Linked DNA regions of Homo sapiens: all the other regions are linked to region 1. Evidence: fine-mapped expression QTL. A gene starts in region 1. Each other region holds a variant in brackets. All regions are shown on one strand. Distances are between the middles of the regions. Region 1 holds the start of HCN2 (hyperpolarization activated cyclic nucleotide gated potassium and sodium channel 2). Region 2 overlaps RNF126 (ring finger protein 126). Region 3 overlaps HCN2 (hyperpolarization activated cyclic nucleotide gated potassium and sodium channel 2). Region 4 overlaps HCN2 (hyperpolarization activated cyclic nucleotide gated potassium and sodium channel 2).

Region 1 (4,819 bases):
AGGAGCACAGCACTCTCTCAGCAGGAAGGGGAGGTGAAGAGAGTGTGAGACGTGAGGCTGAGACACTGGCAAGGCTGTGAAAGACCCCATCCTTCTCCCTCATACCATCCCCACCGTGCAATTGGGGAAACTGAGGCAGAGGGGCCCAGCGAGGACCCAAGACACCCAGCCAGGCACAGGAGGCCTTGGGCCCGAAGCCAGTTGGGGCCAGGCTCCTGAGTCAGCTGCAAACGTAGAGGCCCCTTCGCTTGCTGTGGGCTGCCCCAAAACACCCTCCACAGCAGGGTCCGGCCGCCTGCTTAGGGAGCTTTTGAGATATTCTTGGGGGTCTTTTTCCACACTGATTCCACACTGGCACAGGTCCCAAGCCTGGGGAGGGTCCTAGGGGCCCCGTGCACCCAGCTTGGCAACATCGAAATCCTTTTTTAAAATCTGACTGCCGTGACTCCCCTAGTCCCGAAGACAGGCCCCGCTAACCCCATTCCCTGCCTGCTCAGTTCCACTTCAACACTCATCTGCCGGGGTGGGGCTGCACTTGGTCCACACAGGGGCCTCTGAGCCCTCTATGCCTCAGAGCACAGAGCGGGGCCACAGCCTGCCCAGGCCTCCAGGCGACCACGCCCAAGGAGGGTGGAAGGATGAGAGGGCTTCACTCCTACCACCGGCCTTCCCCCCAAGCCCCGGGATCAGCCATCTGCCCACCTGCCCCCCAGGCCACCGACCGCCCCTCTGCAGCCAGGGGGTCGCTGGAGCTGCCCAGGGGAGGGAGTGGCTGGTGTGGGCCTCCACCTGCCAGCCCCCACGCTGCGGTGCACCCATCTCTGTCGAAGGTCATGCTGGAGGGGACGGAGGGGAGTGGGCACGTTCTACAGCTCCCTCTCCACCGCGTCCCTCTCCGGTCAGGGGGTGCCACTGCCCGACTGGAAGTGGGGCCAGGCCGACCAGCAGCCCTGGAAGTCCAGTCCTTCCCGCTCACTGTCCACATTTCGCAGGCCAGAGCCCAGATGCTGACCAAGCTCTCCCGGTGGGGCACAGAGGCAGGGTGGGAGGGGCCGGACACAGCCCCTCTGGGGATTTCGGGGCTCCTCCCACCCCTGGCCTGTCTCGAAATCCAGGCTTCTGGTCAAAGCTGTATTCACCTCTCAGGAAGGCCTGGGGTGGGAGGAGGATTCCAGGGCCTTCCTCCAGGCTCTGTCCAGGACGCATGTGCCCCAGGCCTCAGTTTCTCCAGTCAAGCACTAGGGGTGCAGAGAATCCAGGGGAAGAGAGAACCCCACAGCCTCCCTGCCCAGTTCCGGGGGTCCAGGGTCCGTGGGGGCTGTCCTGGGGCGCCCAGGCCTGGAGGAGGAGAGACAGGCGGGAAAACCGCAGGCTTCCCAGGTCCGGCGCGCTGTCCGTGGTGCTGAAACCGCGCCCGTCCCGCGCGCCCGGCCTCGCTAGCCCGGCGGGCCCCACCTACACCCTCCACCTGCACCCTCCACACCCCACCTCACACCCCACTCGTGGATACACAAACACACACGCATCCCTCCATGGTCGCGTGTGTGAGACCTGCCTGCGGCTCACACTACTGCCCACCGGTGCACACCGGCCCCGGGCGTACACGCGCACGCCCGCCACCTGGTCCCAACACACACAAACCACACGTCCCACCAAAATAAACCCACCGGAGGCGCACACGCCCGCGACCACCACGCAAACACACTCCTGGAGACACACCTCTCCGGCCACAGGCTCGCGCCCCGGGAACCCCGCCGCGGTCACGGGCCCCTGTTCACACACAGCCCACGGGGACACGCGCCGGTCTCGCTCTCCGGCCACAGCACGCACAGCCCAGGAACCACGACCGCAAACATCAGTGGCGGTGGCCCCGCGCCGGCCCTGCTCCGAGCCTTCCACGCATTAGCCGGCTGGATCCACAGCGGCGTCTACACACCCACCGCCGCATGCGCGCACCGCCCGCGGCTCGGGTGGAGCGGCTCCCGGGGACACAGCCTGGGGACCCGCACGCTTTCCAGGCCCGCGGCCCCGGGCGCGCCTCCTCGCAGGCGGGGCGCGGGTGGACGCCGTGGGAGCCGCTTAACCCCCTCTCCCCCGGCCTCCCTGGGGCGCGTCCTTCCCGGGCGCCCTTCGTTCCTCCTCCCTCCCGCTCCGCCGCCTCTCTGGGGCCCACGTTCCCCTCTATTCGTCCTCTCTGCCCCTCTGCGCTCAGACCCTGGCCCTGCGGCCCACCCCACCCGCCGCGCCGCAGGGCGGAGGATGTCGGGGTGCGTGGGAGGGGGGCGCTCCGCGGTCACCCGGGGAGCCCCCCCAGAGGCGGAGCCTCGCGCGCCGGGGTCACTCCGGGGCGGGTCCCGGACACGCCCGAGGTCACCGAGGAGCCCCGAGGTCACCGGCCCGGCGCGCCGCCCCGCCCTCCCCAGGCGCTCCAAGGACGGCTCCCCGCGCGCCCGGCTCCCCGGGCCCCCTCGCGCCGACCGGCCCTCCCGGAGGCGGTACCTGAAGTCGCTGTACGGGTGGATGATCCAGGCCCCCGCCGACTTGACGCGCTCCTGCTCGCGCTCCACGGCCTTCTGGCTGCCGAACATCCGCAGCGAGAACTTGTTGACGCCCGGCTGCAGGAGCGCGCCGAACTGGCGCTGCATGAAGCTGGCCTGGCTGCCGCGCGGCTCCCCCGCCGGGCCCGCCTCCTCGCTGCCCGCCTCCTCCGCCGGCCCCGGCCCCGGCGCGGGCCCCGAGGCCGCCCCGCGGCACGAGAACGACACCTTGGGCCCCCGCGCCGGGCCCTCGGGCCCCGCGGGGCTGCACTGCGGCTCGCCGCGCCCGCACTCGCCGTTCGGGCTGCCCTTGGCCGTGCTCGCCGCGCCCGGGGTGCCGGGGCGGCCGCACGAGCTGTCGCGGCTGCGGAGCCGGCCCCGCGGGCCGCCCTCATCCGCCGCCTCCGGGGGCAACGCCTCGGCCCGGGGCGGGTGCTGGGGGGGCGCGGGCCCGGGGCCCGGGGGGGGCGCGGGCGGCGGCGGCGGCGGCGGCTGCTGTTGGGGGGGCGCGGGCGGCGGCGGCGGCGGCGGCCCCGGCGCGGGGGTCGCGCCCGGGCTCTCCCCGGGCCGCCCGCCGCCCCCGCGCGCGTCCATGGCGAGGCGGCGCCGGGCAGTGCGGAGCGGAGCCGCCGCCGCCGCCGCCGGCCGGAGCCCGAGGGAGGGGGGAGGCGGGGGCGGGGCGGGGCGGAGCCGCGGGGGGCGGAGCCTCGCGGCGGGGGAGGGGCGGGGGAGGGGCGGGGGCGGGAGACCCGCCTCGGCTGCGCCCCCTCCCCGCGCGCCGCCTCCGCTCGGCGCCGGGAAACTCGGGCCGCGGGGTCGGGGGCGCCCCAAGGTCACGCGGCCCGAGGCCTCGGAGCCCCGCGCGGGCCTCTCCCCAGGAGGGGAAACTGAGGCCCGCGACGTGTAAGGACGCGCCCAAGGTCACCGGGCCCCGCTGCCCGGCCGGAGCCGCCTCTCCTGCGCCGCGGCTTCCACCTCTGTCCGGAGGGCACCGGCGCGGGGAGGGTGGACGCGGGCCTGGGAGACGGGAGAGGCCGCCACGGCCAGCGCCTCCTTGCTTTCTGTGAGGTTTGAAGACTTCCACGACGAAAGGGTGTTTCTAAAGGTCACAGGAGCCCTTGCTGGGTCGCCTGTGGGCCCTGGACAGAGACCCTTGAGTGCGTGGGGAGGGGCAGGCCGGCTTGGGCGCCGTTCTGGGAGACTCAGGCACTCCTCTCCCTGGTCTGCATTTGAGGAAACTGAGGCCAAGCCCAGCCAGACAAGGAAAACTGGAAAAGCCACCCGAGGGTGTGGGGTTCCCACCCACCCCTCAAACAGTGCCCTGGGGAGCCGTGCGGCGGGGGTCTCCTCTAGGTCTGGTGGGCTTTAGATTGGGGTCACAGGGAGACCCAAAGCCCACTAGCGCCTTCGCACGGGTACCAGAGCCCCCTGCCCCGGGGTTGCCTCCTTTCCCCGACCCCTCGGACTCCGGGTGCAGCTGTGCCCCCAGTGCCTCCAGTCCCCAGCTCTGAGACAGGTGCTTCCCAAGGCTCTGCTTCTGGGCCGAAGCCGGCTGGGCGTGGGTGCTGCTTGGTGCCAGGTGACATGAGGCCTCTGTCCCTAGCCACCCAGCCCACCAGACAGCCGGGAGGGGGCAGGTGAGGAAGCTGGCAAGTGAGAGAGAGGAGACAGACAGTCACACTCGAAGAAGTGGAGGCTGAACATCCCCACCTGGAGGCAGGAGGCCCTCCTGGGACCCTCCTGGCACCTGGCCTGACGTCCTCTCAGCCACGATGTCCCGTGTGCCGGGTGCCCCCCACCCATCTGCACCTCGAGGCCACCGGGGCAGAGATGGCCCTCTTCCTACACCCAGGAGGCACTCAGTGGTACTTGAGGGAGGGCCAGCATGTGCCCGGCTGACAGTGGATGGGCTGAGCCCGACCGTGTCTCTCGCCTCGGCCTGGCTGCCCCACACCCTGGGGATCCCTGCGCCCCCACGCCGGCCCCGCCGGCCACCTCCGCATAGGCGGGCAGGACAGCTGTTTGTCCCAAGGTGGTGCGGGAGAGGCCGGGCGGGCGGCACAGTTGGCAGTGCCAGGCTGTGGCCCGCCCCGAGGCAGATGCGTGCTCCAGCTGAAGGGGGTTCTTTTATGTTCACCCTGGGAAGATGTCAGGCCGGGCAGGTCGCCAGAGCCCCAGGGCTCGCGGCTGGGAGCAGGGAGGAGGCGGGACCCGCACGGCACGAGAACCGCCCATGCCTGGCAGTGGGAGAAGCAGAAAGACGCCTCCTGCAGGCGCCGGCA
Region 2 (5,962 bases), 61 kb before region 1:
CTCAGCCTCCTGAGTAGCTGGGATTACAGGTACGTGCCACCACGCCTGGCTAACATTTGTATTTTTAGTAGAGACGGGGTTTCTCCATGTTGTCCAGGCTGGTCTCGAACTCCTGGCCTCAGGTGATTCGCCTGCCTCGGCCTCCCAAAGTGCCAGGATTACAGGTATGAGACACCGCGCCCGGCCAGCACTTTTTTTTTTTTTTTTTTTTTTTTTTTTTTTTTTTTTGAGACGGAGTCTTGCTCCCTCGCCCAGGCTGCAGTGCAATGGCACAATCTCAGCTCACTGCAACCTCCGCCTCCCGGGCTCAAGCAATTCTCCTGCCTCAGCCTCCCAAGTAGCTGGGATTACAGGCGCCCGCCACCACACCCGGCTAATTTTTGTATTTTTAGTAGAGACAGAGTTTCACCATGTTGGCCAGGCTGGTCTCCAACTCCTGATCTCAGATGATCCGCCCGCCTCGGCCTCCCGAAGTGCCAGGATTACAGGCCTGAGCCACCGCGCCCCCGGTGATGGCGGAGCGTGCCGAGAATTCGTGGGGCGTGGGCTGAAACGCATGTGGTGCCTCCCGGCCTCACCAGGAGCCGGGCCGCACTTTTTCTATATTGTAGATGGTGCCTCTTCACTCTCCCCTCACGGTGGGTTCATGTGCATCTGGCATCGTTTGCTCACCCTGGCCTTAGTCCCTCCCCACCCAGCCTGTGCTTCAGTGGCAGGAGCAGGTGAGGCAGGCACGGCGTGGTGTGGGCGGGGGCCCAGCTGTCGGCCCTCCCCTTGGGCACTGCACGCCAGACCCCCGCTTCTCCCCAGAGTCAGTGGGTGAGGCCGGGATCTTGCTTGCTGGAGAGGTCCCAGCCCCTGCCCCTGCGAAGACTGAACAGCCCCGGTGCAACCTGCATCCCCAGAGCCTGGGGTCGACCTTGGCTCCCCTCACAGCACTCCCCCATGCACGGTGGGAGCCTTGTCTCCTGTTTTTGTCTGTGTTACCTGGGGGTGGTCTTGGGACCCCCATGTGAGCCCCTGGCGTGATGACACGTGCCGTGTGAGGCCATTTTCACGTTGCTGCGATGGAGCACTTGAGACTGGGTCGTTCATAGAGAGCAGTTGATTTAGCTTCCAGTTTCCAGTTCTGCAGGCTGTGCGGGAAGTGTGTGTCGGCATCTGCCCAGCCCCTGGTGAGGCCGGGAGGCACCATGCACGTTTCAGCCCAGGCCCCACGAATGCTCGGCACGCTCCGCCATCACCAGGGGCCCAGCCATCCATGAGGAGTCCGCCCTGTGAGCCAGTGTCTCCAGCAGGCCCTTCAGCCCTGGGGATCCCGTTGCAGTGTGAGATCCACAGGGGATGGCATCCGTCCTGCTCGGCACAGCTGTGGCTTGAGGCTGGTGCTGGGGAACTGTGAACGTGGTTTTGGGACTCACCCACGGCTGTCCCTGGGCAGGGTCCTCACGTCTCCTCTGGGACATCACCATGTTGGCCTTGTGTTGTCCTTGGCTCTAGGGGGACCTGGGGATGGGGTCTTGCAGGGGTGTGGCCAGCGTGGACGTGGCCTCCCCCGAGCCAGGGGAACGGGCTGTGTGCGGGGCTGCCAGAGCGTCCTGGAAATGCCACTGTGGGGTATTGGGGCACCCCTCCGAGTGGTGCCACCTGTGTGAGGAGGTGCCCAGGCACTGGTGACGCCCGTCACGGTGGGGCAGGTCGGAGGGGCTCAGCCAAGGCGCTGATGACGCTGGTGACGCCCGTCACGGTGGGGCCAGGTCGGAGGGGCTCAGATCGCCGGGAGCCACCAAAGGGTCAGCGGGTGGCTGGCAGAGGCCAGGTCCCCTCGGCCGCCCTCCAGGACCCACGGGTTGGGAGCCACCCTGGCCTGCGTGTGCCTGGCCAGCCAGAGACCGCTGGGTCCGGAGCCCCTCTGTCCTCACACTTGGGGGGGTTTGCAGGTGATGCCGGCGTCACCGTGACCCGGCCTCCTGTTCTCTCCTGCAGGATTATATCTGTCCAAGATGCGAGTCTGGTTTTATCGAGGAGCTTCCGGAAGAGACCAGGTAATGCAGCCCCCTGTTGAAGAGGCTGGAAGAGCCAGCCGGGCCTCAGCTGTTGTAGGGGTGTGGGCTGTGCTGGCGTCCGCCCCGCCGAGTGTGGGGCCGTCAGGCCCTGGTGTCTGTGGCTCCGGGAGCACTTTTCTCTGTGCAGACAGCAGCGTGCCGTTCTCTTCTGTGATGGCCGGGCCGGGGCCAGAGGGGAGTGCCGGCAACCTGTGCAGCCGCTCACCTCCCTCAGCCTCGGCGGCTAATCTGGTGACCCAGGCCCTCCGGGGAAGGGGCCACGGGGGCCCTACCCACATTCTCACGCTTAGGAGGCTGTTGGGGTCTGCACCGGTTTATCGAGAAACCCGTGGTTTACTGGCGAGGGAAGCAGCAGCGGGTTACGGCACCAAATGCTGGGGCGGTGGCGGGTGGGAAGCAGTGCCAAGGACAATTCCTGCTCTCCCAACATAGGCTTTTGAGGGGAGGGAGCGCCTGGCGCATGGGGGCACAGGGTAGCCGGCACTGCTGACCTGCACTCTCTCCCCAGGAGCACAGAAAATGGTTCTGCCCCCTCCACAGCTCCCACAGACCAGAGCCGGCCACCGTTGGAGGTGAGTCGCCCGCCCCTCGTGCTTCCCGATCGTGTCAGCCTTGCTCGGGGCCCCGAGCGCCAGCCTGTCCCCACCTCGCCTCCCCGGCTCTCCCTGCCCGCACGGCGGAGGAAATTTTTCCCTCCAGGGGCCCGGGCCAGGGATTGGGGCGGCCCACGCTGCTTGGTTGGTTTCTTGGATGAAAGCGAAACTTCCACCGAGGCATCTCACACCAGCGGGGCAGGCTCTGCCCAATTCCTGCCTCCCTGTCTGCGTCTCCCTCCCACCCGGCACCCAGCAGGGCCCGTCTTGCTTTCTCCTTTGTCTTTGTGCCCTAGCGCCCCCAGCAGACTGCACGGGCCTGAGCCCCCGAGGTCACGCCCCCCTCCTCTCCCCAGCAC[G/A]TGGACCAGCACCTGTTCACGCTGCCGCAGGGCTACGGACAGTTTGCTTTCGGCATCTTCGATGACAGCTTCGAGATCCCCACGTTCCCTCCTGGGGCGCAGGCTGACGACGGCAGGGACCCTGAGAGCCGGCGGGAGAGAGACCATCCGTCCCGGCACCGGTACGGCGCCCGACAGCCCCGCGCCCGCCTCACCACGCGGCGGGCCACCGGCCGGCACGAAGGCGTCCCCACGCTGGAAGGGTGAGGGGGCCCCGGGGGTGGCCGCGAGGGCCCCACGCCTTGAGGTCGGAAGTTCTGGCGCTTAGAATCCAGCACGGGTTCCACGGAAACGTGGCATCATCCATAGGCTCTCTGGAGAGGCCGCCCGGCCAGGCCCTCCAGCCCCCTGTGACTCCCCACACGGCCCTTCGGAGACAGAAGTATGCCGGTTCAGGGTGTGTGGGTTGACCACAGAGTGGGGCACCGTGTGCCTGCCAGGCCCACGTGCTCTGGAGACTGCTGTCCACACGCGTGTCGTCAAACGCTGTCCAGGCCTTGGGCCCAGAACAGAGCCTGGGGGAGCCGTCGCAGGGCCCCACTCCTGGTGGAACGGAGCCTGGGGGAGCCGTCGCAGGGCCCCACTCCTGGTGGAACGGAGCCTGGGGGAGCCGTCGCAGGGCCCCATTCCTGGTGGAACAGAGCCTGGGGGAGCCGTCGCTGGGCCCTGCTCCTGGTGGAACAGAGCCTGGGGGAGCCGTCGCAGGGCCCTACTCCTGGCGGTTGATGCTTTTATGGTTGTGTGTCTCACCTGCTGGAAATGTCATCTTTAAAAGTGGCTAATTTTGCCAGGCACGGTGGCTCAGTGCTGTATTTGCAGTTCTCTGGGAGGTCAAAGAGGGAGGATCTCTTGAGGACAGGAGTTTAAGACCAGCCTGAGCAATGTAGGGAGGCCCCATCTCTAATTTTTAAAAAGTAGCTGAGGCTGGGTGAGGTGGCTCACACCTGTAATCCTAGCACTTTGGGAGGCCGAGGCGGGCAGATCACTGAGGTCAGGAGTTTGAGACCAGCCTGACCAATATGATGAAACTCCGTCTCTACTAAGAATACAAAAATTAGCCAGGCATGGCGGTGGGCGCCTGTAATCCCAGCTACTCAGGAGGCTGAGGCAGGAGAATCACTTGAACCCGGGAGGCAGAGGTTGCAGTCAGCCGAGGTCGTGCCATTGCACTCCAGCCTGGGCAACAAGAGTGAAACTCTGTCTCAAAAAAAAAAAAAAAAAAAAAAAAAGTAGCCGAGAGTGGTGGACCTCTTCTGTGGTCCCAGCTACTTGGGAGGCTGAGGCGGGAGGATCGCTTAAGCCCAGCAGGTTGGGGCTGCAGTGAACCAAGATCAAGCTGCTTCTCTCCTGCCTCGGCATTAGAGTGAGACCCTGGCTCATAGTAAAATAAATAAATAGAAGCTAATCTAGAAGCTGATGCTGGCCCTGCCCTTGGTGCTCACCACGGACCTGGCAGGCCTGGCGCCTCTCCTGTGCGTGGGGCGGCCTCACCCCGTGACTGGCGCTCTCTTTTCCAGGATCATCCAGCAGCTCGTCAACGGCATCATCACGCCCGCCACCATCCCCAGCCTGGGCCCCTGGTGAGTGGGTGGGGGTGCCTGTCCCCATCCCCAGCCTGGGTCCCTGGTGAGTGGGTGGGGGTGCCTGTCCCCATCCCCAGCCAGGGTCCCTGGTGAGTAGGAGGGGGTGCCTGTCCCCATCCCCAGCCTGGGCCCCTGGTGAGTAGGAGGGGGTGCCTGTCCCCATCCCCAGCCTGGGCCCCTGGTGAGTGGGTGGGGGTGCCTGTCCCCATCCCCAGCCTGGGCCCCTGGTGAGTGGGTGGGGGTGCCTGTCCCCATCCCCAGCCAGGGTCCCTGGTGAGTAGGAGGGGGTGCCTGTTCCCATCCCCAGCCTGGGCCCCTGGTGAGTGGGTGGGGGTGCCTGTCCCCATCCCCAGCCAGGGTCCCTGGTGAGTAGGAGGGGGTGCCTGTCCCCATCCCCAGCCTGGGCCCCTGGTGAGTGGGGTGGATAGACGCACCTGCCCCAGCTGCCCGTCAGCCACTTGAACCCCACCTTCCACCTCCAGGGGAGTCCTGCACTCAAACCCTATGGACTACGCCTGGGGGGCCAACGGCCTGGATGCCATCATCACACAGGTACAGCGTGGCCACGGCCCAGAGTGCCTGCTGGGGGAGGGCTGGGCTGCCCACCCCTGGGAGCTGCCCCACTGCCTGGACCCACGAAGCCCCACAAAGGTCAAAGGGGATGCGGGCACAGCCTCCACGCTCTGGCGGGCACAGGGGGCAGCTCCGGCCTTCCTCCTGCCATTTCTGAGTCTTGGCAACTTTGGGGGTTCTCCTGTGTTCACGCGGAACGTTGTAGCAAAACCGCGGGGAGGACTCGCCCACAGTCACATGGTCAGGAGGCCACGCGGTCCCTCTTCCCGAGAGGTCGCGCCCTGACCTGCTTCCAAGTGCCACCCGTCTCAGCCTTGCTGAGGAGCCCTTGGAGCATTTTGTCACTGGCAGGACCCGACCCTCACAGTAGCCCACCAGCCGGAGCACGGCCCCCCCATTCCGCCGTCAGGGCACTCAGGAGCGCGGCCCCCCCCCCCATTCCGCTGTCAGGGACCCAGGAGCGCGGGCCTCCGCCCATTCCCCCATTCCACCGTCAGGGGACCCAGGAGCGGGGGGGCCGCGTGGGCTCCACAGTGATCTCCGACCCCGGGCGGGCTCCAAGGGGCCCAGGGCCCAGGACAAACGCGGCCTCGGTGCTTTTGCAGGTCCTGCAGCCTCGCGTTTCAGAGCCCCGGGCCGGGCCCCCGAGGAGCTCCCGGCACTCTCGCCTCTTGTCTTTCAGCTCCTCAATCAGTTTGAAAACACAGGCCCCCCACCGGCAGATAAAGAGAAAATCCAGGCCCTCCCCA
Region 3 (5,962 bases), 20 kb before region 1:
ACCACGCCGTGCTGGATGAAGTACATCTTCTTCCCGATGGTGCCTTCGCGGATGATGTAGTCACCCGGCTGGAAGACCTCGAACTTGAGCTTGGTCAGCATGGCCGTGACGAAGTTGGGGTCGGCGTTGGCGAACAGCGGCATGGAGGCCACCAGCTTCCGGCAGTTGAAGTTGACGATCTCCTGCAGGGGGGAGGCAGGGCTGGGTCCGCTGCGGACCCCACTCCCGCTTCCCCCTCGCCCTGCCTCTGGGACCGGCTCACCTCTCGGACCCCAGTTTCCTCGTCTGAGAGACGGGCTCAGCCCCGTAGCCGGAACCGAGCTGCTGCCGCCAAGGACGGGAGAAAGAAAAAACGCTCAGTGCCCCTTCGCCGTTTGACACCGTATTGGCGACATCTGCCAATACAATCGGACCAGGAGGGGCGGCTGTAGACAAGAGCGGTGGAAAGGAGGCCGGGTGCGGGGGCTCACGCGTGTGATCTCAGCATTTGCGGAGGCCGAGGCGGGAGGATCGCTTGAGCCCAGGAGTTCTAGACCAGCCTGGGCAACACGGTAAGACCCCCGTCTCTACCGGAAAAAAAAAAAACAGCCAGGCGTGGTGGTGCAGGAAGTCGAGGCTGCAGTGAGCCGTGATCCCCACACCACTGCCCTCCAGCCTGAGCGCAGAACAAGACCCTGACTCAAAAAAAAAAAAAAAGAAAATGGGGGAAAAATAAGGCCGGGCGTGGTGGCTCACACCTGTAATCCCAGCACTCTGGGAGGCCAAGGTGGGTGGATCGCCTGATGTCAGGAGTTCGAGACCAGCCTGGCCAACATGGTGAAACCCCATCTCTACTAAAAATACAAAAAATTAGCTGGGTGTGGTGGCGGGTGCCTGTAATCCCAGCTACTCGGGAGGCTGAGGCACGAGTCTCTTGAACCCGGGAGGAGGAGGTTACAGTGAACCAAGATCACACAACTGCACTGGAGCCCGGGTGACAGAGCGAGACTCCATCTCTCTCTCACACACACACACACACACACACACACACACACACCAGTGGAAAGCTACATTCGGTCAGACTATCAGGTGATTTTTGAAAAATCAACATGAAAACCAAGGGTCTGGAGATGAATCAATGGTGTGGGAAGTCAGGGCAATTCCCCTTAGCAAAGGCAGCTTCTAAGGACGGCAGGAACGTTCCAGCTTCGTTCTGTGTGGTGGTTACACCACGTTCCCTTTAGGGACCAGCTATCGAGCTGTGCCCTTATGACCTGGGGCACTTTTTGGTACTTTTTTTTTTTTTGAGACGGAGTCTCGCTCTGTTGTCCAGGCTGGAGTGCAGTGGCACAATCTCGGCTCACTGCAACCGCCGCCTCCTGGGTTCAAGCGATTCTCCTGTCTCAGCCTCCAGAGTAGCTGGGATTACAGGCGCCCACCACCACGCCCGGCTAATTTTGTATTTTTAGTGGAGACGGGGCTTCACCATGTTGGCCAGGCTGGTCTCGAACTCCTGACCTCAGGTGATCTGCCCGTCTCGGCCTCTGAAAGTGCTGGGATTACAGGCGTGAGCCACCACGCCTGGCCATATGTGGGTTTAAAGATTTGACTTTGCAACTCCTAAACACCTAAATAATGACTAAGTAGCGTGGGTTGCCAGGGGCTGGGGACGGGGAGTGAGCTGGTGACTAACACCCCAGGTCTCCTTTTGGGCCCATGAGAATGTTCTGGAGTGAGGCTGTGGTATCGGGTGCAGCACTCTGTTAATACTAAAAGCCACCGCATTTTATGCATTTTGTGGTCTGAGTGTTATATCTCTACAAATGAATGAATGGAAACCGTAGTCATCAAATGCAATTAAACATTCTTGGCGAAGCGAACCGCAGTGTGTGCCTCCTGGGAGCAACGGGTGTACACGCCCCCCCAGAGGCATTCCCGGGGCCCGAGGTCCCTAGTGTCAGGCCCGTCCTGCCCGCCTCCTCGCCCAGCTCCTCCAGCCCCTCCTCGGGGCCTCTGCCCGAGCCAGGTGCTACACCGGGGACACCCTGCCTGGCTCACACACGGCCTTGCTGATGTCGCCTCCCCGTCCTCGTCCCTCCCCGCTTCCCAGAGCTGCTCTCTGCTGCCTGCGTGATCACGGCCGCCATCCCTAGGCCCCGCTTCCTGAGGGTGGGACCTTCAAGCACACGGCAGGGCACGCAGTCGGCGCTCAATAACTGTTTGATGTGTGTTGTGGGTTGAACTACATCTCCCAGAAAGACAGGCTGACATCCTGACCCCCGGTTCCTGTGAATAGGACCTTATGTGGAAATAGGGTCTCTGCAGACATGGCCCAGTTAAGGCGAGGCCACGAGGAACCGGGTGGGCCCTGATCCAACGACGGATGAATTTACAAGAAGAGACAGAGACACACAGGGGAGAAGGCTGTGAGCAGATGGAGGCAGAGATCAGGGAGATCAATCTGCAAGCCAAGGGCGCCTGGAGCCCCAGACGCCGGAAGAGGCAGGAAGGATCCTCCCCAGGGGCTCCGGGGGGGTAGCACGGCCCGGCCCACGCCTTGATGTTGGGCTTCCGGCCTCCAGGACGGTGGGAGGCCGAATCTCCGCTGTTCAAGCCACTCAGCCTGTGGGTATTTGTTCCCGCAACCCTGGGAAACTTGCCCAGGGTCACTCAGGCTACCGGAACAGAGCTGGGAGTTAAACCCGCTCCAATCAGCCTCAG[T/C]GCCCCCAGGACCTGGTGCTCAGCGGGGCCTCTGCGGCTCCTCCCTCCCCACCCCCTGCCCTGCTTCTGCCCCGCCCTGTCAGGCACAGACCCAGGCAGTTCTGCTAAGGGGGCAGCGGGAAGCAAGGCGGGGGTGGCGGGGGTCCTGGGGGTGCAGAGGCTCACGGGGCGGGGAGGGGAGGGTGTGTACGCAGGTCTAGCTCGAGTCCCTCCTGCTGCAGCCTAGGCACCTCGCCTCCCTCAGGGACCGGCTCCTGGGCTCCAGGAGAGGGAGGCCGGCCCTGTACCGGAGGCTGCCTCCCGCCCGCCCGGCGCCCGCCTCACCTCCCGCAGGGGCCCGTTGAGCTCGCCCAGGATGCTGTCCTCGTCAAACATCTTGCCCTGGTAACGGTGCTCATAGTAGTCGTGGATCTTCTGGCGGAAGTCAGCTGGCAGCTTGTGGAAGGACATGTACTGCTCCACCTGCTTGTACTGTGGGGAGGAGGCGAGGCTGGGTCAGACACCGCCCCCGGCCTGCAGCGGGCACAGGGGCACCTGCTTGTACTGTGGGGAGGCGAGGCTGGGTCAGACACCGCCCCCAGCCTGCAGCGGGCACACGGGCACCTGCTTGTGGGTCAGACAGCCCCCCGGCCTGTGGCGGGGAGATAGGCCTTCACACCTGCTTGTACTGTGGGGGGTCAGGGCTGGGTCAGACAAAGCCCCCGCCCACAGCGGGGAGACAGGCCTCCGCCACACACAGGGGCGGCCAGATTCAACAAGAGCAAATAAACATGCTTCTATTTAAATCAAAGTTGAATTCGTTTCAATGATAAATTCCATTTTTTTTTTCTGAGACACTGTCTCGCTCTGTGGCCCACGCTGGAGTGCAGTGGTGCAATCACAGCTCACTGCAGCCTCCGCCTATGGGCTCAAGCAATCCTCCCACCTCAGCCTCCTGAGTAGCAGGGACTGCAGGTGTGCGCCACCACGCCTGGCTGATTCTTTTATTTTTTGTGGAGATGAGGTCTCGCCATATTGCACAGGCTGGTCTTGAACTCCTGGGCTCAAGGGATCCTCCCACCTCGGCCTCCTGAGTAGTGGGGATTACAGGTGTGCACCACCCTGCCCTGCTAATTTTTTAATTTTTTGTAGCGATGAGGTCTCGCCGTGTTGCTCAGGCTGGTCTTAAACTCCTGACCTCAGGCGATCGGCCTGTCTCGGCCTCCCAGAGTGCCGGGATTACAGGCAGGAGCCACTGCACCAGGCCGGGTGCCCTGAACTTTATCTAGCAACCCTATCCCTGAGGAATGGGTGGGCACCTGACTCTACGAGGAGAGGCCCCAGGTACCCTGACACACAGGACCCCCTTCCCGGGGGCTCTGGCCCTTCCCTGATGATCTTTCCAGAAACCATCGGGTCAGCCCCTCCTGAGCAGGGAAGGGAGCGTGGGTGCTGGGCGGGGGTGCCAGGCCCTGCTGTCCCCAGGACGGTGCCCCCCGGCAGCTCCAGCCTCACTTCCGCCCCAGCCCCGCCCGGCCGCAGCTGCCCTGAGCTCAGCGGAACCCGTGACGGCGGGCGGGTGGTGGCACCAGCTTATGTTTGGGTGTGAGGCCCGTGGCTTCCGGACAGCAGGGCGCCTGGCACGGGGCCCAGCTGACCCAGCCAGCCACTGCTCGGGGCGCGGGAGAGGGGGGCACTTGGCTCCCAGCCAGGACCAGCCAGCCGCCTAACATGGGGAAACTGAGGCACAGAGTGGTGCATGAGGCCCAACTCCAGGGGCTGCCAATGGGGCCAATCCTAATCTCCCTCCACCCCTCCCAGCTCCCCCGTGTCCCCTCCACTGCCAAGCCTAGGATTAACCCAATGGACGCTGCAGGCCAGAGGCCGCATCTGAGCAGTGGGGCAGCCTTGCTCTCCCTGAAGCCTGGCCCTGACTGCCGGCCACCGGCGTGTCCTGAAGCAACCCCAGGCCTCTCAGACCCCGCCAGGCCCTTCCCTAACCCAGCCCCATCCTGAGCCGGCCTAGAGACCCCCAGGTGGGCCCAGCCTCCTGGCAATGCCCCTTCAGCCCGGGGGCTTCCCGATGTCCAAAGACTGACCCTGTCCTGCCCTGATCCCAACTCACCCCTTCCTGCCCAGCCTGCATCCCCTCCCCAGCCCCCGCCCCACGTCCATCTCCAGGCTCTGGACCTCCCTCCCTGTCACAGGGTCAGAGAACCTCTCACCACCGGCCGTTTCTCCTCCTAATCACAGCCACAGACCCCCAGGGTCCCCTGCTCCCCATCACGCGGTCTCTGCCCTGAGCGCGCCACTTGAAGCTGAGTGAAGGGCTGAGACTGCCTCTCCCCTCAGACCCCGGGGCCGGGCCCGCCCCTCCCCTCAGACCCCGGGACAAGGACTACCTCCGCCCTCAGACCCCAGGGCAAGGCCTCCCTCCAGCCTCAGACCCCAGGACCGGGCCTGCCTCCCTCCATCAGACCCCAGGGCCTGGCCTGACTCTCTCTCAGACCCCAGATCCAGGCCCGCCTCCCCCATCAGAACCCAGGCCGGGGCCCGCCTCCCTCAGACCTTCTCCTGGTACTGGCGCCGCGAGGAGTCCAGCGACTGGATGAGGGCAGTGGCGTGGCCGATGAACATGGCGTAGCAGGTGGCACCCACAATCATGCTGAGCATGGTCAGCCAGATGTCCGTCATGCTCTCGGGCGCCTGCCGGCCGTACCCGATGCACAGCATGTGGCTCATGGCCTTGAAGAGTGCGAAGGAGTACAGTTCACTCCACGAGTGGTTCTGCAAGGCCAGCAGGAGGGGCGGTGGTGGGCAGGTGCTCACGCCCCAGGAGCCCTCGGTCCTCAAGGGCCCAGCGCCCACCCTCTGCCAAGCACTGGAGGTGGTGAGCTCCCCATGTTCAGAGGTAACCAAGAGAAATGGAGACCCAGGTAGATGACATGGTTTGCACACTTGTCACAGTGAGTTGGCAGGAGGGCCAGGGCTGATTCTACCTGCCCGCTTCACTCCTGGGGAAACTGAGACCCCAAGGGCGAGAGTCTGGGTCCCGCCTTTTGCAGCCTCTGAGATCAGAGCATCTGTGAGGTCAAGAGGGGGCAAAAGTTCCAGGGAGCATCTGGGCCAGAGCAGAGGGGCAGGGCGGGCAGAGACACCAGGCCGGCCCAGGAGGTCCTGCCGCACCAAGTCCTCAGCTGACCCGGCCGGGAAAGGGGAGCCGCGGGGCTCTGTTCAGGAAATGGGACCGCATGTGCGGGTGGCAGCCAGACAATGGGCTGCC
Region 4 (4,944 bases), 26 kb before region 1:
GCCAGGTCTTCAAGAGTCTACAGGAGATGTTCTCGGGGACCCGGGCCATCCAGGTACGTCCTGTCCTGTCCCCGCTCGGCCAGGACTCCCTAAGCAAGTGGACGGGATCCCCGGCCTGAGCCCCCTGCCCTGAGACGGCCTGTGTCCCACAGCACTGGCTGACCGAGAGTGCCCGCCTCATCTCCCACATGGGCTCTGTGGTGGAGTGGGTCACACCCCTGGGCGTCCCCGTCATCCAGCCCTATCGCCTGGACTCCAAGGTCAAGGTCAGTGTACCACCCCATCCCTCCCCAGTGTGCCACCATCCCAGTGTAACAGCGTCCCAGTGTACCAGTGCCCCAGCGTACCACCACCCCAGTGTACCACCGCCCCAGTGTGCCACCCCATCCCGCGCCAGTGTGCCACCATCCTAGCGTGCCACTACCCCAGTGTACCACCACCTCAATGTACCACCACCGTGCTGGGCCTCGGGTGGGACTCACCGGCCCCTTCCCCTTTTTAGCAAATAGGAGGTGGAATTCAGAGCATCACCTACACCCACAACGGAGACATCAGCCGGTGAGTGGGGGGCCCGGGCTGGGGCCTGGCCGGGGGTCTGGAGAGCAGCCACGGTGGAGACAGCGGCCAGTTAGGGGTGTCCCTGGGCCGCCCCCACCGGCACCTGTTCCGTCCTCAGAAAGCCCAACACACGTAAGCAGAAGAACGGCTTCCCGCCCAACTTCATCCACTCGCTGGACTCCTCCCACATGATGCTCACCGCCCTGCACTGCTACAGGTGGGCGTCTCCGGACGGCGTGGGTGCCGCTCGCCTCCCAGGGGCGTCTTCTGGCTAGCAGGGCACAGCTGGCAAGGCTGGGTCTAGCTGGGGGCAGGGACTGGGCAGAGTGGATCTGCTGTGTCTGTGGGGCCTGTGTAGAGGCCCTGAGGCTGTGTGCCCCGAATGTAGGTGGTCCTGGCAGCTCCCCTCCTGTGGCCCGACAGGGAGAGCCGAGCATGGGCGCTGCCCCTTCCTGCTGGGCATTTCTTGGCACCGCGATGTGTGGTTAGATCTGGAGCACGTGGAGGTCGTTCCAGCAGAATCTACCGGCCACGGGAGCTGGGAATGCTCAGGATGCGGGGTGGTGGCCCTGGCAGGAGGGGACCTCGTAGCCGCCCTCGGAGCTGAGGCTCCCACAGCAGCGTGGGGGGCGGCAGGGGTGGGGCGAGGAGGCTTCTGGGAACATTTCCTCCCCCTGTACTGATACCTAACCCAGGATGTTTGGGGAGGGGCGGGGCGAGGGGTGGGGCGAGGCCTGCAGGAGGGTGGGCTTCCCTGGACCTCAAGTGGAGGGGGCTGAGCGCAGGGCCAGGATGCTGGTCACTGGGTGGCCCTGTGAGCTCCCCTCCCTTCAGGAGTCCTCCGCTCTGCCACAGGAAGGGCCTGACCTTCGTCTCTGTGCACGACTGTTACTGGACTCACGCAGCTGATGTCTCCGTCATGAACCAGGTGCCCCCGTAGTCTGAGCCTCAGTCCACCCATGGGTGGGGCCCCCACACTGGGGCGTTGGGTAGGGGTGGTGCCCAGAGCCTGCCTGATCACCCCTGGGGATCCTCTGACTCCTGCCCAGGTGTGCCGGGAGCAGTTTGTCCGCTTGCACAGCGAGCCCAT[C/T]CTGCAGGACCTGTCCAGATTCCTGGTCAAGCGGTTCTGCTCTGAGTAAGGCGCTCCCTGACCCCAACTACCTGGATTCCCCCCCCACCCCAAAACCTGGCCTCAGCCTCACCCCACCCTGCTTCCAACCCCAGGCCCCAGAAGATCTTGGAGGCCAGCCAGCTGAAGGAGACACTGCAGGCGGTGCCCAAGCCAGGTAGGCGGGTGGGCAGCCTCGCAAGGGTGGCTCGAACTGCGGGCCAGGGCGGGGCTTTCCCGCCACCCACGCCGTCCGCTCTGCTTCCTCCGCAGGGGCCTTCGACCTGGAGCAGGTGAAGCGTTCCACCTACTTCTTCAGCTGACACCCCGTGAGCCTTGTCAGTGTGTAAATAAAGCTCTTTTGCCACCCCCAGGAGCCACTGTCTTCAGGAAGGGTGCACGCCCTGCGGGTCTCGGGCAATCACACGCGGCCAGGCTTGGCGCCAATGCTGTCGTTTATTGCGCGGAATGGGGGTGTGGGGGTTAATGGGGCGTGGGGGGCCACGGTGGGGGCACTGCTGCCTCGGCTCGTCAGTACATTCATCACGGCGGCGGGACCCCAGCCTCCCCCCCGCGCCCTGCGCAGCCAGGCCTGCCTCTCGGTGCCAGTGCTGGAGGGAGGCGGGGTGCTGCTCCCCGAGGTCACCGGGGGACGCGCGCGGACGGGGGCCGGGCCGGTTATTGCGTGAGCGCGATGGGGGCAGCGGGAAGCCGGCGGGCCAAGTATTGCACTTAGAAAACGATCCTCCTCGGACGGGGGCCACCTAGAGGGTGGGGGGCGGGCGGGGCTCCACAGCCGGCTCCTCTCAGCCACTGGGCCGCCCCGTCCCTGTCTTACAGCTGGGGGAACTGAGGCACCGAGGTGAAGGGAGCCCCCTCGCACGCGAGGCCGCCGCCGGGGGCAGGGGCGATGGGGGTGGGCGCGGGGCGATGAGGGGGGACGGCCGGGGGCGCGGAGGGGGCTGCCCCGCCGGCCCTGCCCGTCCGTCCAACTACGGCTACCTACGTCTCGTCTATGGCTTCTGGGCGGACTGGCGGCCGGGGCAGCGCAATGGCATGGCTTTGGTCTGGATGACGGCCCCGCCCCCGGCCCGCCTGGGCCCGCGGGGCGGTCGGCGAGGGTCACAAGTTGGACGAGAGGCGCGAGCGCGCGGAGTCCTGGGGGTCCAGGCCGCCGGCGGCGCCGGGTGAGGCCGAGTCCCTGCGGTCCGGGCTGGGCGCGGCGGCCCGGGCAGCGGGCGTGGGCCCCAAGCGCGGTGTGGAGCTGCTGGCCGGGCGTGTGGAGGCCGCGGGGCCGGGGGCGCCGTGAGGCAGCGAGGGCTGCGAGGCGGACAGTGGGCGCGACGCGCGGCTCAGGCGGCGCGCGGGCAGGGCGGGCCCAGCAAGGGGGGCGGCGGGCAGGCCGCCGTAGGGCGAGGTCCGCGGTGCCCGGGGGCTGGCGGGCGCGCCCGGGGGGCTGGCGGGGGGCGGGGGCCCGGGTGAGGCGGCGGCAGGTGCGGGCCCCGGGGGCGGGCGGCGCACGAGGCGCGGCGAGCCGAGCGCCAGCGGCCCCACGAGCGGCCGCGCCACCTGCGGGCAGAAGCTCATGGCCGCCGCCTGCTGCAGCGTGGCGATGGCCGAGGTGACCTGCGGCGGCGGCGGCGGCGGCGGGAAGAGGCCCACGCGCTGACCCAGCTCGGCCTGCTGCACCATCTCGCGGTCGTACTTGACGATCTCCTGGATGATGGCGTTCTCCTGGTTGTTGAATACGCCCGAGTTGAGGTCATGCTGCACCTTGTGCAGGAGGATGGAATTCTTCTTGCCTGCGGGAGAGGGGGCGTTAGCGTGTGCACAGGGAGCGCCTGCTGCGTACAGCGGGCACCGAGCACCTACTCTGCACCGCGGGTGCGCACACAGTGCTTGCCGTGTAGAGCAAGCATGCATTTACCACCTACTGTATACAATAAGCACATATGTAGCATCTCTGGCCTATAGTATGGATATTGAGTACCTGCCATATACAGGCTGAGCACCTGCTATGCACAGCCAGCATGCATGAAGCACCTGCATACAGAAAGCAGGGCTTTTGTTTTGCTTTGTTTCTGAGACGGAGTCTTGCTCTGTCGCCCGGGCTGGAGTGCAGTGGCGCGATCTCGGCCCACTGCAAGGTCCACCTCCCGGGTTCACACCATTCTCCTGCCTCATCCTCCCGAGTAGCTGGGACTACAGGCGCCCGCCACCACACCCGGCTAATTTTTTGTATTTTTTTTTTAGTAGAGACGGGGTTTCACCATGTTAGCCAGGATGGTCTCAATCTCCTGACCTCGTGATCCACCCACCTTGGCCTCCGAAAGTGCTGGGACTACAGGCGTGAGCCACCGCGCCTGGCAGTAAACAGGTATTTAATGCCTGCTGTGTACATGGAGCAGGTATCACTGTGCACCAAGTATGCATGTGTACCACCTGTATACGCTGATTATGTAATGACTGCCTCCAGTGTGCCACAGGCATACCGAAAACACCTGCCTGTACACAGCCTGTGCTGAGCACCTGCTGTATACAGAAGTTATAACCTAAGCACCTGATACTCAGGAACGGGTTGCATACTCACTGTATAGAGCAAGTTGTGGAGAGCTTCCTACTGTACACCAGGGAGCTCCCTGACACCACTCCGTCGCACCTGTCCTGCGTTTCAGCCATGGTCTTCATTCCCATTCCCACGAACAGCAGCATGAGCCGCCATCTCTCTGGCGCCTACATCCAGTCATCAGGGCTCTGCCCCTCCCTGCCCCAGAGACTGCCCCCCTGAGAGGCCAGGTCACCGTCTCCCTCCTGGACACGGCCCGCCTTGGCGGATACAATCTGACCAGGTCCTCCGCCCACCTAGAACCCTCCATGGCTCCCTGATGCTCCTGATTTAGTCTAAACTCTCCCTGCCGCCCACTGGGCCCTGTGTGTCTGGCCTCCCCTTCTTCCCCAACCTCCTCCAGGCCTCCCTGGCTCTCTGGACTCTAGGCCTCTTTTCCACCTCAGGGCCTTGGGATGTGCTGTGTCCACTCCACGAACACATCTTCCTCCCCGTTTCCACATGGCATCCCTTACCCTGGTCTCCACTCTGCATTCCCAACTCAGGGAAGCCCACCGGCCCCACCTGCCCTGCTGGCACACAGCCCAGTCGTGTGTGATTTCATCACCAGTCCATAAGCCTCCCTGGGAGTCTGAGTGGGCCCCCGGGTCTGTCCCCTGCACCCCCAGCACACAGCAGGTGCTCACCGAGCATTCGGCACAACCGCAAACAC

The links.
Region 2: its variant is fine-mapped to the expression of HCN2 in whole blood (INTERVAL, PIP above 0.99).
Region 3: its variant is fine-mapped to the expression of HCN2 in whole blood (TOPMed, PIP above 0.99). The same link has a PIP of 0.9 or more in T cells.
Region 4: its variant is fine-mapped to the expression of HCN2 in esophagus mucosa (GTEx, PIP above 0.99).

The regions. Positions count from the first base shown.
Region 1 is chr19:588,258-593,076 of GRCh38, reverse strand. It overlaps HCN2 (hyperpolarization activated cyclic nucleotide gated potassium and sodium channel 2), which reads right to left and starts at 3,196. Exons shown (of 8, transcript NM_001194.4): 1 at 2,500-3,196. The coding sequence starts at 3,131. It also overlaps the pseudogene LOC100420586. RefSeq lists an enhancer at 4,427-4,819.
Region 2 is chr19:648,909-654,870 of GRCh38, reverse strand. RNF126 (ring finger protein 126) reads left to right here. Exons shown (of 9, transcript NM_194460.3): 2 at 1,987-2,045; 3 at 2,575-2,638; 4 at 3,016-3,260; 5 at 4,575-4,637; 6 at 5,123-5,192; 7 at 5,896-5,962. Among named protein-coding and RNA genes, the nearest start is that of RNF126, 11 kb to the left of the region's middle. The variant G/A (reference allele first, on the strand shown) is at 3,019.
Region 3 is chr19:607,468-613,429 of GRCh38, reverse strand. HCN2 (hyperpolarization activated cyclic nucleotide gated potassium and sodium channel 2) reads right to left here. Exons shown (of 8, transcript NM_001194.4): 4 at 5,248-5,466; 5 at 3,025-3,171; 6 at 1-182. LOC107987266 (a long non-coding RNA gene) reads left to right here. Exons shown (of 2, transcript XR_001753828.2): 1 at 1-551; 2 at 2,276-3,490. Among named protein-coding and RNA genes, the nearest start is that of HCN2, 21 kb to the right of the region's middle. RefSeq lists a silencer at 1-91 and an enhancer at 2,211-2,520. The variant T/C (reference allele first, on the strand shown) is at 2,701.
Region 4 is chr19:614,319-619,262 of GRCh38, reverse strand. It overlaps HCN2 (hyperpolarization activated cyclic nucleotide gated potassium and sodium channel 2), which reads right to left. Exons shown (of 8, transcript NM_001194.4): 8 at 2,104-3,468. The coding sequence ends at 2,789. POLRMT (RNA polymerase mitochondrial) reads left to right here. Exons shown (of 21, transcript NM_005035.4): 14 at 1-53; 15 at 153-266; 16 at 503-558; 17 at 677-775; 18 at 1,414-1,486; 19 at 1,608-1,693; 20 at 1,783-1,844; 21 at 1,940-2,042. The coding sequence ends at 1,989. Among named protein-coding and RNA genes, the nearest start is that of POLRMT, 17 kb to the left of the region's middle. The variant C/T (reference allele first, on the strand shown) is at 1,649.